Linked DNA regions of Homo sapiens. The protein of the gene in region 4 purifies or fractionates together with the protein of the main gene of each other region. This does not show direct contact. Each region holds a gene or a part of one and is shown on either strand. Other genes may lie near its edges.

The links. Proteins that work in one complex are often made in the same cells at the same time.
Region 1: the proteins of MED13L (region 4) and OGDH purify together in Homo sapiens (affinity purification with mass spectrometry; one large-scale study listed by BioGRID and IntAct). This does not show direct contact.
Region 2: the proteins of MED13L (region 4) and ARHGEF2 purify together in Homo sapiens (affinity purification with mass spectrometry; one large-scale study listed by BioGRID and IntAct). This does not show direct contact.
Region 3: the proteins of MED13L (region 4) and ADD3 purify together in Homo sapiens (affinity purification with western blotting; one study listed by BioGRID and IntAct). This does not show direct contact.

What each region holds. Positions count from the first base shown.
Region 1 is NC_000007.14:44,704,127-44,707,626, forward strand, and holds part of OGDH (2-oxoglutarate dehydrogenase complex component E1 isoform 1 precursor), read left to right. Parts: intron 1-3,098; coding exon 3,099-3,262; intron 3,263-3,455; coding exon 3,456-3,500. UniProt on the Homo sapiens protein: 2-oxoglutarate dehydrogenase (E1o) component of the 2-oxoglutarate dehydrogenase complex (OGDHC). Participates in the first step, rate limiting for the overall conversion of 2-oxoglutarate to succinyl-CoA and CO(2) catalyzed by the whole OGDHC.
Region 2 is NC_000001.11:155,954,548-155,958,047, reverse strand, and holds part of ARHGEF2 (rho guanine nucleotide exchange factor 2), read left to right. Parts: intron 1-165; coding exon 166-335; intron 336-3,078; coding exon 3,079-3,146; intron 3,147-3,500. UniProt on the Homo sapiens protein: Activates Rho-GTPases by promoting the exchange of GDP for GTP.
Region 3 is NC_000010.11:110,122,984-110,126,483, reverse strand, and holds part of ADD3 (gamma-adducin), read right to left. Parts: intron 2,468-3,500; coding exon 2,210-2,467; intron 659-2,209; coding exon 539-658; intron 68-538; coding exon 1-67. UniProt on the Homo sapiens protein: Membrane-cytoskeleton-associated protein that promotes the assembly of the spectrin-actin network. Plays a role in actin filament capping. Binds to calmodulin.
Region 4 is NC_000012.12:116,271,194-116,274,693, forward strand, and holds part of MED13L (mediator of RNA polymerase II transcription subunit 13-like), read right to left. Parts: intron 1-3,500. UniProt on the Homo sapiens protein: Component of the Mediator complex, a coactivator involved in the regulated transcription of nearly all RNA polymerase II-dependent genes.

The DNA.
Region 1 (3,500 bases), on a different chromosome or scaffold from region 4:
CTGCCAAACTTTCCACAGTGGCTGCATTTTACATCCCACCAACAGTATATGAGGATCCCACCATCTCTACATCCTCATCAGCACCTACTATTTTCTGGTTTTTTCATAGTAGCCATCTTAATGGGTGTGAGATGATATTTCATTGTGGCTTTGATTTATATTTCTGTAATGATTAAGTGATGTTGAGCATCTTTTCATATGCTTATTGGCCACTTGTATATCTTCCTTGGAGAACTGTCTATTAAAATCCTTTTTTTTTTTAATTTAATTTTTTTTAAGAGACAGGATCTCTCTATGTTGCCCAGGCTAGTCTTGAACTCCTGGGCTCAAGGAATCCTCCTACTTTGGCCTCAAAGTATTGAGATTACAGGCATGAGCCACGGTACCCAGCCTATTCAAATTATTTGCCCATTTTTGAATCTGGTTGCTTGTTTTTGAGTCTTAAGAGTTCTCTGTATATTCTAGATATTAATTCCTTATCAGAAATATAATTTGCAAATATTTTCTCCCGTTCTATGGGTTGTTCTTTTATTCTGTTGTTAGTATCTTTGGTTTTGGTTTTGGGTTTGGGTGTTTTTTTTGTTTGTTTTTTGTTTTTTTCCGAGATGGAGTCTTACTCTGTTACCCAGGCTGGAGTGCATTAGTGCAATCTCAGCTCACTGCAACCTCTGCCTCCCAGGTTCAAGTGATTCTCCTGCCTCAGCCTCCCAAGTAGCTGGGATTACAGGCGCACGCCACCATGCCTAGCTAATTTTTGTATTTTTAGTATAGACAGGGTTCCACCATGTTGACCAGGCTGGTCTTGAACTCCTGACCTCAGGTGATCTGCCCACCACAGCCTCCCAAAGTGCTGGGATTACAGGCGTGAGGCACTGCACCTGGCCTGTTGTTAGTATCTTTTGATGTACAAAAGTTTTTAATTTTCTTTTTTTTTTTTTTTTTTTGAGACGGAGTCTCGCTCTGTCGCCCAGGCTGGAGTGCAGTGGCGGGATCTCGGCTCACTGCAAGCTCCACCTCCCGGGTTCACGCCATTCTCCTGCCTCAGCCTCCCAAGTAGCTGGGACTACAGGCGCCCGCCACTACGCCCAGCTAATTTTTTGTATTTTTAGTAGAGACGGGGTTTCACCGTTTTAGCCGGGATGGTCTCGATCTCCTGACCTCGTGATCCGCCCGCCTCGGCCTCCCAAAGTGCTGGGATTACAGGCGTGAGCCACCGCGCCCGGCCAAGTTTTTAATTTTCATGAAGTCAGATTTGTCTATTTTTTCTTCAGTTGCCTGTGACTTTGGTGTCATATCTAAGAAATCATTACCAAATTCAGTGTTGTGAAACTTTTGCCCTATGTTTTCTTCTGAGTTTTATAGTTTTTGCTCTTATGTTTAGATCTTTGACCCACTTTGAGCTAATTTGTTTTGTTTTTTATTTTTTGTTTGTGTTTTTTTGAGACAGAGTCTCACTCTGTCATCCAGGCTGATGCAATCGTAGCTCACTGCAGCCTCAATTCCTGGGCTCAAGTGATCCTCCTACTTTGGCCTCCCAGAGTACTGGGATTACATGTGTGAGCCACTGTGCCCAGACTTTTATTCTGTTTGTATCATAAATGGAATTGTTGGCCTAATTTCCTCTTCTTATTGTTCATTGTTAGTGTATAGAAACACAACTGGTTTTGGTTACGTGCATATGATGCGTAGTGCTTAAGTCAGGGTATTAGGGTGTCCGTCACCCGAGTACGATACATGTTTGTTAACCTTACTCCTTTATCAAACGTTGAACTTAATTCCTTCTATCTAACTGTATGTTTGTACCATTCAACCCACTTTTCTATATTTTTTTGAGATAGATTCTTACCCTGTCACCCAGGTTGGAGTGCAGAGGCATGGTCATCATGGTTCACTGTAACCTCTGCCTCCCAGGCTAGAGTGATTCTCCCACCAAAGCCTCCCAAGTAGCTGGGAACACAAGGTGTGCACCACCGTGCCTGGCTAATTTTTGTACTTTTGTAGAGACGGAGTATCACCATGTTGCCCAGGCTGGTCTCGAACTCCTGAGCTCAAGGGATCCTCCTGCCTCAGCCTCCCAAAGTGCTGGCCAACCCACTGTTCTCTATCTGAATATTTTCTCTGATTGTGTTGAAAGTTTTTATATTTGTAAAATTCTGAGCAGCAGAAACAGAGTAAACATGGGATTTTTTTTATATAATTTTTTTTTTTTTTTGAGATGGAGTTTTGCTCTTGTTGCCCAGGCTGGAGTGCAATGGCGCATTCTTGGCTCACCACAACCTCCGCCTCCCGGGTTCAAGCAATTCTCCTGCCTCGGCCCCCCGAGTAGCTGAGATTACAGGCATGCGCCACCATGCCTGGCTTATTTTGTATTTCTAGTAAAGACAGGGTTTCACCATGTTGGTCAGTCTGGTCTCGAACTCCTGACCTCAGGTGATCCGCCTGCCTCAGCCTCCCAAAGTGCTGGGATTTACAGGCGTGAGCCATGCGCCCGGCTGGTATTTTTTTTTTTTTTTGTCTGGAGATGGAGTCTTGCTCTGTTGCCCAGACTGTAGTGCATGATCTCAGCTCACTGCAACCTCTGCCTCCCGGGCCCAACCGATTCTTCCACCTCAGCCTCCCGAGTAGCTGGGACCACAGGCGCACACCACCATGCCTGGCTCATTTTTTGTATTTTTTTAGTAGAGACGGGGTTTCACCATGTTGCCCAGGCTGGTCTCGAACTCCTGAACTCAGGCAATCCGCCCGCCTCAGCTTCCCAAAGTGCTAGGATTGCAGGCGTGAGCCACCGCACCCGGCCGGGATGTTTTAATAATACTCTTGTCCCCGAAGTCTGAGCCAAGCTGTTTTGAAGGCTAGCCTGGTGTTACTTGATACCCAGAGCTGGCCATGTCTGCTGTGTATTTGTTACACGTAACGTGCTTTTCAAAGTGTGCCTGGTCTGAGCAAATACAGGGCATCAGAGGCTGGTGAAGGGGAAGCATCTCTAACCCTTGAAAGCTGCGTCTCCTGGCAGCAGTCCCTGGCACAGCCCTGGGCCCAGGAGAGCTCTCAGCCACATACCTGAGAGAACCAGCCTAGCCATGGGAACTCTCTTGTAGGAACCCACTTCCAGCGGGTGATCCCAGAAGATGGCCCTGCAGCTCAGAACCCAGAAAATGTCAAAAGGCTTCTCTTCTGCACCGGCAAAGTGTATTATGACCTCACCCGGGAGCGCAAAGCACGCGACATGGTGGGGCAGGTGGCCATCACAAGGATTGAGCAGGTGAGGGCAGGTGGTGCCATCAGGGTGTCCCCCCAGCGGGGGTCAGGGCTCTGGTGCCTTCACAGAACAGCCTTGCTTGGGGTGTGGCCCTCAGGTTCCTGACCTTCCCTGCTCGGAACACCAGTTTCCCTTTGCTGGATCTTGCCTGCCCTCTGAGTTTCCTCTTTTTGATCTGACCCCTGCTGTCTCCTAGCTGTCGCCATTCCCCTTTGACCTCCTGCTGAAGGAGGTGCAGAAG
Region 2 (3,500 bases), on a different chromosome or scaffold from region 4:
CACACATTTCTAAGTCCCTTCTGGCTGGCACCAGTGCCTGGCTCTTAACTGGTATTGTAAGATGACTCTTCAGTCCTTTCAGTCCTCGTCCAGAAGGATTGAAGGCCTAAATATGCCAAGGGACAGGATTCCCAGGCTTAATCCTTCCTTTCCCCTGACTGGCAGGACAAGCCTTCAGTGGTATCGCTGCAGAATCTAATCGTACGAGACATTGCCAACCAGGAGAAAGGGATGTTTCTGATCAGCGCAGCCCCACCTGAGATGTACGAGGTGCACACAGCATCCCGGGATGACCGGAGCACCTGGATCCGGGTCATTCAGCAGAGCGTGCGCACGTGAGTGTCTGCCTGCCGCCTGCATGTGCTTATGACCTCAGGGTACCTGCAGCATTAGATCCCAACCATAGAACTCCCTGGGAACAGAATCCAGCATTCAGAGGTGGGGGAAGAGGTTGAGGGAGAGACAAAATGGCCCAAGACTGGAAAGGTCACCTATGTTCTTATGTCCTGTAAAGCCACATTTTATACATTGCCAACCTCAACTCCCTTTCAAATTCAGCATGAGCTGACAAGCAAGGGAATACTTTGAGCTGTCACATGGTGGCATACCTGCCAGCCAACAGTACAATTTCAGCTGCATTCACATGTTCATCTGTAGGCAGAGGGCTGTTATTTGGATTGTATTGTATTTTACATTTATTTTTCTAAAAATGAATGAAAAAGAGGATAATGAAAGCATCGATACTAGAGAGGAACAAGTCTCATAAACAGACTCAACACAATAGAAGCAAGAAGGAAATCAGTGTGTCAAAGCAGCAAATCTTTAGCTTCTATTGGACACACATTAGATTTGAGGCAGTCAACTATGTGTCTAATTGTGATGGGAAAAAACATCAAATAAAGCACAGGTAAGATGTTTAAAATGGATTCTGGAAGATTATGCCTAAAGAATGAAGTGTAAGTGTAATTCTAATTCAGATTTTTACAGGTTTTCTTTCTTTTTTTTTTTTAATTTTTTTTGAGACAGAGTCTCGCTCTCAGCTCACTGCAACCTCCACCTCCTGGATTCAAGCGATTCTCCTGCCTCAGCCTCCCAAATAGCTGGGACTACAGGTGCCCACCACGACCCCAGGCAAATTTTTTTTTTTTTTTTTTTTTTTTGGAGACAGAGTCTCTGTTGCCGGGCTGCCTCAGCCTCCTGAGTAGCTGGGACTACAGGCTCACGCCACCATGCCCAGCTAATTTTTGTATTTTTAGTAGAGACGGGGTTTTACCATGTTGGCCAGGATGGTCTTGATATCTTGACCTCGTAATCGACCCGCCTCAGCCTCCCAAAGTCCTGGGATTACAGGCATGAGCCACTGCACCCAGCCAAATTTTTGTATTTTTAGTGGAGACGGGGTTTTGCCATGTTGACCAAGCTGGTCTCGAACTCCTGATCTCAGATTTATCCGCCCACCTCAGCCTCCAAAAGAGCTGAGATTACAGGCATTAGCCACCATGCCCAGCCAAGATTTTTATAATTTTTCTTTAGCTTTCAGGGAATCAGTTCTCAACTTTATAATTTGTAAACCTTTTTTTTTTTTTAACTTCTGCACCATGGAATTTTGAAAAGGTTTTTAGAAATGCATATAAAAGTATGAAATTGCAGGCCAGGCACAGTGGCTCACGCCTGTAATCCCGGCACTTTGAGAGGCTGAGGCGGGTAGATCACTTGAGGTCAGGAGTTCAAGACCAGCCCGGCCAATATGGTGAAACCTCGTCTCTACTAAAAATACAAAAATTAGCCGGGCGTGGTGGCATAAGCTTGTAATCCCAGTTACGCGGGAAGCTGAGGCAGGAGAATCGCTTGAACCCGGGGGTGGAGGTTGCAGTGAGTCAGGATTGTGCCACTGCACTCCAGCCTAGGTGACAGAGTGAGACTCCATCTCCAAAAAAAAATTATGAAATTGCCTATTCCAAGAAAGCAGTTCAAAATAACCTGTCCTGTTGACAGATCTGTAGTGGCTTCTTTATTAATAGTATTAATATTTATAATTGTGGCCAGGCGCTGTGGCTCACACCTGGAATCCCAGCACTTTGGGAGGCTGAGACAGGCGGACCACTGGAGTTCGAGACCAGCCTGGCCAACATGGCGAAACCCTGTCTCTACTAAAAATATAAAACTTAGCCAGGCATGGTGGTGCGTGCCTGTAGTCCCAGCTGCTTGGGAGACTGAGGCAGGAGAATCACCTGAACCTGGGAGGCAGAGGTTGCAGTGAGCCAAGATCCTGTCACTGGACTCCAGCCTGGGCGAAAGTGCAAGACTCTCTCTCAAAAAAAAAATTATAATTGTGGAAATTAATAATATTAATTGTAATTGATTTGTTGAGCTTCTGTTATGTTCAAAGCACTTTAACATTTCATTTAATCCTAATGAAAAACCTATGAGGAAGATATTACCTTCATTTTTCAAATGAGGAAATAGAGAGGTTACCACCTGGTAAACAGTGGAGCCAGGATTTGCATCCTGTTTGCTTGATGCCAAAGCCTGTACTTGACCCTCTGCACTGTGCTGCCTTTCCAAGCGACCTTTGGAGAGATATATCTCAGTAAACGCAGATAATCAGTGCTAAGAAATGGGAGAAGGTCGGCCGGGCGCGGTGGCTCATGCCTGTAATCCCAGCACTTTGGGAGGCGGAGGATCACCTGAGGTCAGGAGTTTGAGACCAGCCTGGCCAACGTGACGAAACCCCATGTCTACTAAAAATACAAAAATTAGCCAGGCATGGTGGTGCGTGCCTGTAATCCTAGCTACTCAGGAGGCTGAGACAAGTGAATCACTTGAACCCAGGAGGAGGTTGTAGTGAGCTGAGATAGCGCCCTTGCACTCCAGCCTGGGTGACAGAGTAAGACTCCGTCTCAAAAAAAAAAGAAAGAAAAGGGAGAAGGTCAGGACTAAATTAAAGCTAGGGTGTGAGGCTGAGGAGTCTTATCAGAAGATGGAAGCATAAGGCATGTTTGGGAAGGAGGGAAGGCTGATTCTGGTCTATAACCTAGCTTCTGTCTCTCAATGGCATGCGACCTGTTACCCCTCCAGATGCCCATCCAGGGAGGACTTCCCCCTGATTGAGACAGAGGATGAGGCTTACCTGCGGCGAATTAAGAGTAAGTCCACCCACAAGGAGCTCCTTAGTAATTTATAATACATTCACACAATGGAATATTATGCAACTGTTAAAAAGATGAGATGGCTCTATGAGGGCTGGTGTAGATCCACAACTGAAACATATTAAGTGAAAAAAGCAAGGTTTAAAACAATGTAAAGTGTATACTACCATGTGTGTAAAAATAATATGGAAGACCAAGGTTGGGTGAGTAACTTACTTTTTCACTGTAAGGCCTTATATTAGTTAGGGTATGATTTAACTGCTATACTAAAAGACCACAAAAATCTTCTTCCTTAAAAAAGGAAGTAGATTGGCCGGGCGCGGTGGCTCACGCCTGTAATCCCAGCACTTT
Region 3 (3,500 bases), on a different chromosome or scaffold from region 4:
CAATTCCAGCAAGCAACTGAGATTGTGGTCCTGCTGTTTTCAAGTCATATCGATTTTGTTCCCGAATCTGAATTGAAAAACAATTCAATATAAAGTTCTTGAGGGCAACTATGCAGATGACCTTTGCTTTATCTTTTCATAAAAGCTTACTACTTGACATTTCCAGAGTGAGAGTCTCTTCAATTCCCACCTCCATAAAGACCTCTTTTACCATCCTAACAACTCATATTAGTCTCCTCTGCTCTTTATGGCAAGTTATTTCCTTTCGTCTTAGGTTGTTAGAGAACTGCATTTTCCCCCTAATAGCAGGGTTCTCTAACGCAGAAAAATGTTCAATACATCTTCCCCATGTAGCCTGTTCACCAATTACTAGCACAGAGCTGGAGGCATTCAATATAAGCTAAAATTATACTGAATTAAATTCCAAATTCTTCTGTATTCAAACTTCTAAGTTTGGCATTAACCAGATTCAACCACTGGTGATTTAAACATAAAGCAATTAAAATGTCTCCCCTGGCTATAGAAGACCATGTCTTACCTTATTTCTCTTTTCTAGTACCTCATTCGGGTTTGTGTTTAAAGGAACAAACTGATTTGGATCTTCAATTTTGATAGGTGTTCCACCACTAACTTTAGATGAGTCTTCTGCTTTCATCCACTAAAGAATCAAAAATTTTCTAAAATGAAGCTTTGTGTTAAGAAAATATTAGTAGATTGTTAGATAACTGCTTATAGTCTCAAGAGGGGCATTGCCAATGTTTAAATAATTTCACTAAGCAGTATCTTAGTGGTGAATTAGTTTCATCTCATACTAGTTAGAAAAGGCTCAAAATCAACATTTACTTAAAAAATAAATGCCATTACGATTCACATAAATATTCAATTATACTGCTAATTAAACTTTCTCCTTGTGTCAAGTGAAAATATGATGCTGAAACTACTTCAAGCACAGAGAGCATGATCTCACATTCACTCACATTCAGTGTTTTGTCTTCTGCACTGAAGACAGCAGTCAGATGAAGATGGCAAAGGAGTAATCAAAAAAAAAAAAAACTTAAGAAATATCTTAAGATTTTAGTTTATCAGACTTCACTTTTTATTTTTGGCTGACAGAAAAGGCCAAGCCCTAATCGGCATTTTATAATGGGGATAATCTGGTATATAATAGCAAAATAGAACCACGGGGTTGGAAGGAGCTTACATAATTCTTCTCATTTACCCCATATTATAATCCTTAAAGAAAGCGAATCTCGATCAAGATTAATGATGGCTGACCATCAATCTCTGTAAACAAAATGAATTCTGAGAAACCAATGAGTTTAATTATGTTCTTTTACTGGGAGGCAAGAAATCTTATAGACTACAGAAAAGACATTTTGATGCCTAGGTATTTTCATATTGAATGCCATTAGTTTATATAAGATGAACTAATTCTGAATATCTAGAACTGTGGTGTCCAATCTTTTGACTTCCCTGGGCCACATTGGAAGAACTGTCTTGGGCCACATATAAAATACACCAACACTAACGATAGCTGATTAGTTTAACAAAATCACAAAAAATTCTCATAATGTTTTAATAAAGTTTACAAATTTGTGTTGAGCTGCATCCAAAGCCATCCTGGGCCATGGACTGGACAAGACTGACCTAGAGAATGTTTGGTGGTATGCACTCCAAAACCAAACCAAACCAAATCTAATGCAAAATTCTGAAAAAGATAAAATAACCCATTTCTCTACCTACAAGATCTTGCCTAAGGGTAGCTATGTGCAGTGATTCATGCAGCTTTGGTACAATTAGGAGTTGATAACTTTTACAGTTTTAATTCACTGGTGAATTAAACTACTGGTGTAGTTTAATAGAAACTACAAAGCAGTATCATGTAGTGGACAAGAACTGGGCTCAAGAGTCAGACTGTCTTCATGCAAATCCCGAGTTTACCATTAAAACATGATTAATTAACCCTTCTTGCCTTGGTTTTCTCATCTATAAAATAGAAAAACAGCATCATTCATATTAGGAGAGTTAAATGAGAAAATTCGTGTATGGCACTTAGAAGAGTGTCTTGCACAAAGTTAAAGCCAGATAAGTGACAGTAATATTTTTAATATTATTTTACTTTCCAAATATTTTCAATATAGAACATTCAATTCTTGAGTAACTAGGCAAAATATTTAGTAAAGGCAAACTACATAAAATACTGGCATACCGTGATTTTGGTTCGGGGACTGGTTTCTCCGTTCCGAGACTCCTCAGGCACATTCACTTTCATGTAAGTATTTGGTGAGTTCAGCCATCTTGTTTTTTCACGCTGTTGCCTCTGTGCCATGTATTTGAGAGGAGAGAGTGGCACTGTATCGTCTTCAAAGGAAAAAGCAGTCACAGTTGCTGGGATTTCCACATCACTCTTGTGCCTAGGCTTCTCTCGAATGAGAGGATGCCTGTAAGCATAGCCTGTTCTATACCCCTAAGGGAGGGAAAAGCCACATTTGAAGCATCAAACCTGTATCAATAACAGCATTTGGATCCTAATTCCTTTTGTATACAAATGATTTAAAAGACTCCTTTGCTAAAAAACAAAGAAAAAGGCATCCTTCCAAACACCACATAACTTTCATGTAACACTGGAGCTGAAATTATGCAAATTTCAAGACCTAGTTAGAGCTGATAACAGCTGATATTGCAATTTCCACTCACACAACTGTTCCCGACAAACGAACAGTTCTAAGTTGCTGACCAGAAGTGCTTTTCTATCTATAAAACTGTTCTGGGGAAGCAAATCTCAGTGCTCATTTAAGTCTCTGTTCCTGGGTCTGAAGGCAGTCAGCCTTCTGAGCCTTCACAGAAGAGGGTAAAATCTAAAATAACATTTGCCAAACCATACATCTTTTAAGGGGTTACTATCCAAAATATATAGGGGACTCAAAAAATAACAAGAGAAGAACCCAATTAAAAAATAGGCAAAGGATCTGAATAAACATTTCTCAAAAGAAGACATACAAATGGTCAACAAGTGTATTAAAACATCACTAATCAAGAAAATGCAAATTAAAGCACGAGATGGCATGTCCTGTTAGAATCGCTATTATAAAAAAGATGAAAGACAACAAGTGTTAGAATGTAGGGAGAAAGGGACCCTTTGCACACTGTTGGTAGCAATGTAAATTAGTATAGCCATTGTGGAAAACAGTATGGAGGTTCCTCATACAATTAAAAATAAAACTACCATATCACCCAACAGTCTCACTACCAGATATATATCCAAAGGGAATGTACTCAGTATGTCAAAGAGGTATCTGTACTCTCATGTTAGGTACACCATTATTCACAATAGCCAAGATATGGAATCATCCTAAGTGTCCATTGATGGATGGGATATAAATGTGGTATATACAACATAATGGAATACTATTCAGCTTTAAAAAAGAAATTCTGTCAAATGTGACAACATGGATGAACCTAGAGGACATTGTATTAAATAAAATAAACCAGGCACAGAA
Region 4 (3,500 bases):
GAAACAAATACGTGTGTGTGTGTGTGTGAGTGTGTGCGCTAGAATACTATACAGACTTTTAGGCTACCCAACTACCTCACTTTGAAATACATTAAATATAATTTCTTAAAATAGAAATGTTATTATGACAGGCACGCCTGTAATCCCAGCACTTTGGGAGGCCGAGGCGGGAGGATCACGAGGTCAGGAGATCGAGACCATCCTGGCTAACATGGTGAAACCCCATCTGTACTAAACATACAAAAAAAAAATTAGCCAGACATGGTGGCAGGCGCCTGTAGTCCCAGCTACTCGGGAGGCTGAGGCAGGAGAATGGCGTGAACCCGGGAGGCTGAGGCAGGAGAATGGCACGAACCCGGGAGGCGGAGCTTGCAGTGAGCCGCGATCGCGCCACTGCACTCCAGCCTGGGCCACAGAGCCAGACTCCGTCTCAAAAAAAAAAAAAAAAGAAACGTTATGACAAAACAGAAATTCTGGTGGCCAACATCACACAACAGTTTGTAAATCAGATCTGCACAAAATACATCTGAAATAAATGACACTAATAACAATGTTGCATGTATTTTTTTCTTCATTTCTACGGTTGCAATGCACAGTTCAATAACAGTAATACCTAATAGTCAACCATACTACTAATTCTCATAAAATCTGTCTAATCTGGCTAACTGGTTAGCTCCTGTGAAATAAATGTATCATTCACTTTCAAAAAAAACACACACACACACAAATCAGTACTCCTACTACTAGCTTAAAGAAGGGGAACATTGTTATTATTGTTATTTTCTTCAATCAAAAATAAGTCGAATGTTTCAAAAAAAATCTACTCTATCTTTGATTCAAAGTTGAGAGACAGCTGAATTAACTGTTCATAAAAAATAAACAATTTTTCTGTTGTCTGTTTCTCTATAAATATGTAAATAGTAATATTTACATATTTTCATTGAGATGAGTTTCATCTCAATTTTAAATTATTAGGCAAAAATAATTATAGAACAAAATTAACTTAGTTATCACAATTTATAGCACTAGTACAAACTGGTGAGAGAGATCTCTGAAAGTGGTAAGGAATACAATTAAAAACCAGGCTGGCCGGGCGCAGTGGCTCATGCCTGTAATCCCAGCACTTTGGGAGGCCGAGGCAGGCGGATCACAAGGTCAGGAGTTCCAGAGCAGCCTGACCAACATGGCGAAACCCCATTTCTATTAAAAACACAAATAAATTAGACAGGCATGGTGGCAGGCGCCTGTAATCCCAGCTCCTGGGAGGCTGAGGCAAGAGAATCCCTTGAACCCGGGAGCTGAATGTTGCAGTGAGCCAAGACTTCACCAGCCTGGGTGACACAGTGGGACTCTGGTCTCAAAAAAAAACCAAAACAAAAAAAAAAAATGATAAGCTATATAAGCACCTGGCATAAATTCAATAAATACATACTATCCTAAACACACCCCCTTGCCCATTCTTCTCACAAAGAATAGGCCCTACCTAACTTCTTCCCAGTGAGTACTTCAAGCAACATCCACAGCAAAATATTTGTAGCATACAGGCCTAAGGTACATTATTGTCTCTTTAAAATTATGAACTCATCACACATACAAATGGCTCTTTAAAACAGTCCAGTAAACTGCTACACTATGCCTTAAATTGCTGTCTATTATGTACTTAAAAATATTTACTAGCAATTGGAGGTTAATATGGCAACTATTACCGGGTGGCAATTATTGCTATTAAAAATATATAAATACTGTAACACCATGTGCTACTAACAACAAAATGCTAAACCGAAAACATACATTAACAAATTGTAAATATTTTCATTACAGAAAATGATAGCCAGGCGTAGTGGCTCATGCCTGTAATCCCAGCACTTTGGGAGGCTGAGGCAGGTGGATCACCTGAGGTCGGGAGTTTGAGACCAGCCTGACCAATATGGAGAAACCCCGTCTCTACTAAAAATACAAAATTAGCCGGGCGTGGTGGCACATGCCTGTAATCCCAGGTATTCCGGAGGCTGAGGGAGGAGAATCGCTAGAACCTGGGAGGCAGAGGTTGCAGTGAACTGAGATGGCACCTTTGCACTCCAGCCTGAGCAACAAGGCGAAACTCCGTCTCAAAAAAATAAAAAATAAAAAGAAAGAAAATGAACCATCATGGAAAAAAATGCTTTAAACATAAATTATAAAATCACAATGAACTGGTACAAAAAAATACCTTGTGTATTTTGGCACTTTGAAAATTAGAGAAATCATTCCCTTTTCCTAATTTCCATTTTATAGTCCACCCTATTTTGTTCTAGCGCAAAAAAAAAAAAAATTCAGACTTTCTACATTTACAACTACCTTCCCATTCTGCAAAAAAATCCCTTAAGACAAAAAGAAAGTAGGTCAACAATAGATTACCTTAAAAGCTTCAAATATAGAACTAATGGTCTTCAATAGGAATTATGTACTAATGGGTGTACTAGTGTCTCAATTCAGCAAGAATTTGAGATTATCACCCAATTATCCATAGTCAGGAAGATTCTAAGCAAATAAAACATGAAAGTGGAGCATACATATCTAAGAACTAGAGATCACTCCCTCATATCAAAGAGCACATATTTAAATCTAGTTAAAGGGCACAAAATCACTTTCTCCATATTAACTCAATAGAGAAAAATAAATGTCTACTTAACATCCAGAAATTATGTCTTCTCACAAGAATGAGTTCACATACCATAGGGTGCACTGTTACACTTTTCAAAAAGGCAGATTTAACACACTTTTAACTGAATGATTAACTGAGTGAATATATAAAAAGTCACCCAGAAATGTGATGGACAGCATAAGAAAATAGTTTTGAGTCAGAAAGGCACAGGCAGGCATGCACTTAATGCAGCAGCTACAAATCTCACAGCAGTTAGAATAAGAAACTTATACAATGACCCATATCATATATACACAATGGCATTTTTCACACGTTAGGAAAAGGGAATGGATGCTGAAAAATTAATTTAAGAAATTTGATTCCGTGCAGTAAAAAATCAGAAAATAAGTAAAAGACTAGCAGAAATCTTAAAGTGTCTGATTGATTGCACAATCAACTTTTGGTAAGCCATAATGAACACCTCAAGGTAATGGAAACTGGGTGGGTATTACCACGGTACAGAACTTAATCTCTTATTTCAATCTAACTAATGAGAGTATCTAGGTAAATTCTTTATAAATACTTTTCTCTGCAAAAAAAAACAAAACAAAAAAAAAAAAAACCCTGCAGGCCAAAAGAAAAAAATGCATGCTATTATTAAACCATAAAGCGTTCTTATAAAAAAACATGATTTTGAACAAGTGATTACATCTCCTTCAGAAATAACTATGATATACAATGTACTTTGGGCAACATATTTTTAATATTCCAGGTTGCTACTGCTGTATAGCATTTTCAAAAAAAAAAAATCTCAATTTGGAATCAGAAAAATGTACAAGTCAGCAGTTTAATTAATTTACATTTCTTCAATAGCACC